Linked DNA regions of Homo sapiens: region 2 is linked to region 1. The links come from fine-mapping of genetic effects on gene expression. Tissue or cell type: whole blood. Region 1 holds a variant in brackets; the other region holds the start of a gene. All regions are shown on one strand. Distances are from middle to middle.

Region 1 (2,737 bases):
AAGGGAACCAAGGCCCCACAGAGTCTCCAAATTCATCGCTTCCCGGCTCTGCCCTGTGATGCCAAGGAAGCCTGAGGTTCTCCCAGGACTGTCCACCAGGGGGCAGGTGCGCTCCATCATGTCCTCATGTGGGTCCAATGTGGGCAGAAACCTGGCCAGTCCCAGCAGTCTGACTTTTTTTTTCTTTAAGAGACAGGGTCTCACTCTGTTGCTCAGGCTGGAGTGTAGTGGCGCGATCATAGCTCGCTGCAGCCTCAAACTCCTGGGCTCCAGTGATCCTCCCCTCAGCCTCCTGAGTACAGGTGCACGTCACTGCAGCCAGCCAGTCTGACATCTTGATTCCAGGGTGGAAAACCCTTCTTGTCTCCATGGTAATGGCTGGGCTCTCCCACCCTCCAATAGTTCAGCTGCCAAGCTCAAGTCCAGTGGAATTTATCAACAATTTATCACCCTGCCCCTGCTCTGCTAGACAATTTCATGCCTTCTCCTTTATCCCCATGCTCCTGAGACTGAGCCTTTCCAGGAGCCCCTCAACCTGCTTCCTCCCAGAATCCGGGCAAGGCTACACTGGTTTCCCCTCTGCAGGGCCCTGGCCCTGGGAGGGGGAAGGCTGACTCTAATGGGGAGGAATCCCAGCTTCAGTGGCTTCAAGGCAGGCCATTCAACTTACCGACCTTGGCTACACACACCCACGACACGCAACACAGACGCAGACACAAGACTGGCACTTGGGATCACACTGGCCATGTACCAAAGTGGCAGGGCAGCCCGTTTGGGGCCCAGGAATTGAAGGTGGGGAGTGGGGAAGAGGAACCCACCCCTCTGGGGGAGGAGGAGGGTCTAGGCTGAGGTAGGAGTAGAGAGATGGCTACGAGGACTCAGTCATCTCTAGTTCCTGAAATTCCCTGAAAGGAGATGGTGTGGCCTAGGACAGCAAGGAAGGAGGCGCGGGGCTGCAGGCACACCGGAGTGAAGGCGGAGGGTGCAAATGGCAGGTGGGGGGTTGGATGTGGCTGGCAGAGTTTGGCTTTGTCGTTGGCTTGTTGGCCTGAGTGGTACTTACTTTTTTAAAAAATTGGCAGATTTCTAGTTAGAAGTGCGTTATCTTGCCCAGGCCACAGCACTGAATATGGTGGCCTGCCTGGGCCCTCTGGGCATCTGACTTTCACACCATGGTACAAAAGGACAAGTTGGCATTTGGAGGCGGTGCTTTTTTTTTTCTTTTGAGACAGACTCTCGCTCTGTCGCCCAGGCTGGAGTGCAGTGGCGTGATCTCGGCTCCCTGCAACCTCCGCTTCCCGGGTTCAAACGATTTCCCAGCCTCAGGCTTCTGAGTAGCTGGGACTATAGGTGCCCGCCACCACGCCCGGCTAATTTCTGTATTTTTAGTAGAGATGGGGTTTTACCATGTTGGCCAGGCTGGTCTCGAACTCCTAACCTCAGGTGATCCACCCGCCTCAGCCTCCCAAAGTGCTGGGATCATAGGCGTGAGCCACTGCACCTGGCCTGAGGTGATGCTTTCCAAGCCTCCTGAGCTAACTTGAAGGACCCCGTTCCCTACAGGGCTGCCACCTCCTCCCTGCACAGAGCCCCAGGACCATCCCGCAGTCTCAGCCTCAGGCTGAAGCACTGTCCTGTCTTCATGGGTGACTCAGGCAGCATCCCTCCTCTCCAGAAAGCCCCTCTGCAGAAAAGGATGCTGGGGTTTTCTGGAAGCCAGAGCTGGG[G/T]CAGAGCCCAGGGGGAGAAACAAACAAACAAACAAACAAACAAACAAAAAACCCAAGGGCTCCAGAAGCCAGGCTGGCAGGTGCAGCTGGGCGGGGCAGGTCACAGAGAGTCAGGGACTTGCCCCAGCATGCCCCGAACGTCCATGCCCAGCCAGCCTTCCGAGAGGGACACGCCATGGCAGCAGAGGCTTTCCACAACTCGCTGCCTCTGCTCTTGGCCTGCAGGTCAGAGGGAGGCTGCGGCTGTGGAGGGCACTAGAGGAACTTGGCCCAGAAAGAGCCTCAGAGTCCTAGTGGTGGGGGCCTGGAAGGACCAGGGCCCCTTCGCAGGGTCATCCTGCCAGGGCTCAGCCCACCTTGGCTACGACACAGCCCACACCGGCCTGGTTAACTGGGCTTCATCCCAGCATCAGGCACTCCAAGGGGCAGGGGCTTCTCTTCGGTGCTCCCCAGCAGGGTCTCTGGCGTCTCCAGCTGTGACCGAAAGGCACATTCCTCCTTGGAGAAGGGGACCTGCTCGTCCTTCGGGGACTCCGAGGGGCTGGAATCTGTGTCTCCCATTGTGGAGCTGGCTTGGGAGGAGCACTGTGAGCTGTGGTCAGAGCTGCTACAGACGTTCACGATGCAGGTGACATTGACCTGGGTCCCATGGCCACCAGGGGAAGAATCTGCTAAGCACAAGATGGGGTGGGGGTCAGTCCGGGGGTCCAGGAGTGGGGCCCAGGGACCCCTGCCCAAGATGCAGATTCAGACACATGGGAAAGAGCACTGGGCCAGGAGCCGAGACCAAGATTCTAGCCCAGCTCTGCTGTGTGACCTTGAGCAAGTCACTTAACCTGCATGTGCCTCATTTTCCCCTCTGCCGAATAAGAATAGCATCACTACCTACCCAGCCCCAATCACCCCAGAGATGGGAGGAGCCAATTATATAAAACAGATGTCTACTTGGGAGGCCAAGTTTGTAGGATCGCTTGAGCCCAGGAGTTCAAGACCAGACTGGGCAACATAGT
Region 2 (2,609 bases), 41 kb after region 1:
AGCCAGTGCCACCTCCCACCTTCCTCCTCGGTCAAGATGTCAGATGGGGGCAGATGGGCCATGTGTCCATCAGGGGCGGCTCTGAGGAAGGATGAACGCCCACCTTCCCCGCAGCCTCAGGGCACAGGGGCCGAAGGCAGGAGAGGCCCCCTTTGGAGGAAGAGTTCCCCCCAGACCCTTCCATGAAATACAAGTTCTCTGAGCCTCAGTTTTCCTTCTCTAAAAAATGGTTTATCTTATCTTACCAAACCATGGAGACAGTAAAACAAAAATGGGGTTATCCTATGTTACCAGACCAGGAGACAGTCAAAAACAGGCAAAGGGTGCACAGTCCCTTGTACGCCCGTTGCTACTGTGGGAGTGACGTTCATATTGAATAGGAGCCCTAGGGTTTCTGCTGTCTCCATTTTCCTGCGGCCCCCGGAGACTTCATTTGCCTTGCTCGATTACCAGCCCAGACCTCCCTCGCTTGCCCTGTCCCCAGAGGCCGCAGAAAACAGACTCTGCAGTAGCCCCCGGACGCATCGGAGGAAGCAGACAGGCAGCTCGCCCTCCAGCTGTGCCCTCAGTGGACCTGACACACACCTGGTCCTGCTCTTCAGACACAGGACCCTGGTATTTCTAAGAAATCGGAAAACCGTCGCCCAGAGGAAAAGGAAGTCTTTTGAAGAGGGTGCCCGGCGTGGGCAGTGGGGCAGCGCCCCGGCACAGCCCCTTCTCCACCGCGTGGGAGGGAAGGGCTGTCGCGGCAGTCGCCGGGGTGAGGGAAGAGGGGTCCCGGGTCTAGCGGGGGTCTGCCCAGGACCCGCTGCTCAGCCCCAAATGCCCCGGCCTGCGCTCGCGGAGGAACCAGGGTGCGCCCCTGTCACGACGCGGGTAAGAGGGGCTTCGGGGGCCAGAGTTGTGCCCCGAGCGCACGTGTGCCGGGCCCGGAGTCCCCAGCGGGTCCCCAGAGGCGCGCGTGTCTGATGCGGATGGGGGGCGGCGACTGGGACTCCCAGCCTCCCAGCCCGTGACAGCGCCCCGGGAGAGCGCGGCCCGGGCACCCGAAGGCTGCGCACCAGCCGGGTGGACATGCGGGGCGGCTGTCCCCCGTGGGCCGCGCGAGTCACCCACCTGGGCGGGCAAGGCGTGCGCCGCAGCCCAGAGCTCCAGTCCGACGGCCAGCGCGGCCCAGACGGCGACGGGCGCCATGGGTGCGGGCGGGGTCCGGTTGCCCCCTGCCCTCGCGCCCTCGCGCCCTCGCAGCCCAGCGCCTTCTCTCCAGGCTCCGCTGCGCTCGCTAGCCCTCGACTGAAAGCGAAAGCCCGCGCCCCAGCGGGCCAGAGGCCAGGCGGCGGGGCGGGGCGGGGCCAGCCGGCCTTGGACACGCCTCCCCCACGCCCCTCCCCAGACGCTGCTGGGCCTCCGACCCGACCACTCCAGCATCGCTGGGCCGATACCTCCAGCGTCACTCCCAGCACTCGGGTGACCCCTCAACCTCCTCCTATCGTCCCCTCCTCTTCGAATCACCATCTCCACCTGCCCGGCCTCCACCTGCCCGGCCTCCACCTGCCCTCCCAGCTCCCACAGGCTTCCCTGTCCCGTGAGGGTGAGGCACTAATTTGGAAAAACATCCCCCAAAGCTGACAGCTGCTTTAGGGGAACCAAGAGAATTCTAGATCATTCACTTATTTAGACTCTATTTTAAATATATTTAATTCTTATTTTTTAATTTTTTTTGAGACAAGGTCTCACTCTTTCACCCATAGCTCACTGCAGCCTCCAACTCCTGCGCTCAAGCGATCCTCCCACCTCAGCCTCCCGAGTAGCTGGGACTACAGGCTCGGGCCACCATGCTAGGCTGATTTCTTTATAGAGATGGGGTTTCGCCATGTTGTCCAGGCTGGTCTCGAACTCCTGAGCTCACGTGTTCTTCCCACCCTCAAGTGATCTTCCCGCCTCTGGCCTCCCAAGGTGCTGGGATTATAGGTGTGAGCCACTGCACTCGGCCTGTTTAGACTCTAGAGCCAGACCACCTGGGTCTGGATCTCTGAACTGACCTCATAGGACTATTCTAAAAATTTAAAGATATGTAATATACATAATGCAGTCTGTACTTTATATATACTTAAGTAAGTATCTACATATATAACAATAGGCATTTATAAATCTTGGCTGTTGTTACTACTCTTCGCGTGTTCATTTATCCTTAAACACGCATCCAGCCTTCTCACAGGGAGAAGACTCTGCACTTCCCTGCTCAAGTCTCCTGCCCAGGCAGGGGGCAGATGAACAGAGGCTGGGAGAGAATGTCACCAGGGAAGCTGCAGGGCCCTGAGGGGCTGCTGAGACCAGGCCCAGGAGAGCTGGCTTCCCCAGGATTTACATCATGACCGAGCACCCATTCCAGCTGCAATCTGTCCCCCCATCCCCACTTTGAGTGCCAGCCCTAATACAGGGCCAGCCCTGCGGGGCCAGAGCACATTCCTCCAGCCCTGGATTACGGGGGTCCTAGCCCCCAGCACATAGGGCATTTCTAAGGGTTGGGGTGGGCTGGGTGGCAGGAGGCTATTCTGTTCCCTGTTTCCTCACTGCAGGCTGCCTGAAGAGGTACAGAGACCCTTGCT

Evidence for each region. PIP is the estimated chance that this variant, and not a neighbour inherited with it, causes the effect.
Region 2: TNFRSF1B starts here. The variant in region 1 is fine-mapped to the expression of TNFRSF1B in whole blood (TOPMed, PIP above 0.99).

What each region holds. Positions count from the first base shown.
Region 1 is chr1:12,206,398-12,209,134 of GRCh38, reverse strand. TNFRSF1B (TNF receptor superfamily member 1B) reads right to left here. Exons shown (of 10, transcript NM_001066.3): 10 at 1-2,395. The coding sequence ends at 2,115. Among named protein-coding and RNA genes, the nearest start is that of MIR4632, 16 kb to the right of the region's middle. RefSeq lists an enhancer at 1,645-2,145. The variant G/T (reference allele first, on the strand shown) is at 1,728.
Region 2 is chr1:12,165,677-12,168,285 of GRCh38, reverse strand. TNFRSF1B (TNF receptor superfamily member 1B) reads right to left here and starts at 1,295. Exons shown (of 10, transcript NM_001066.3): 1 at 1,117-1,295. The coding sequence starts at 1,194. It overlaps MIR7846 (microRNA 7846), which reads right to left and starts at 1,343; the gene lies at 1,248-1,343. RefSeq lists an enhancer at 228-869 and silencers at 910-1,139, 1,150-1,459.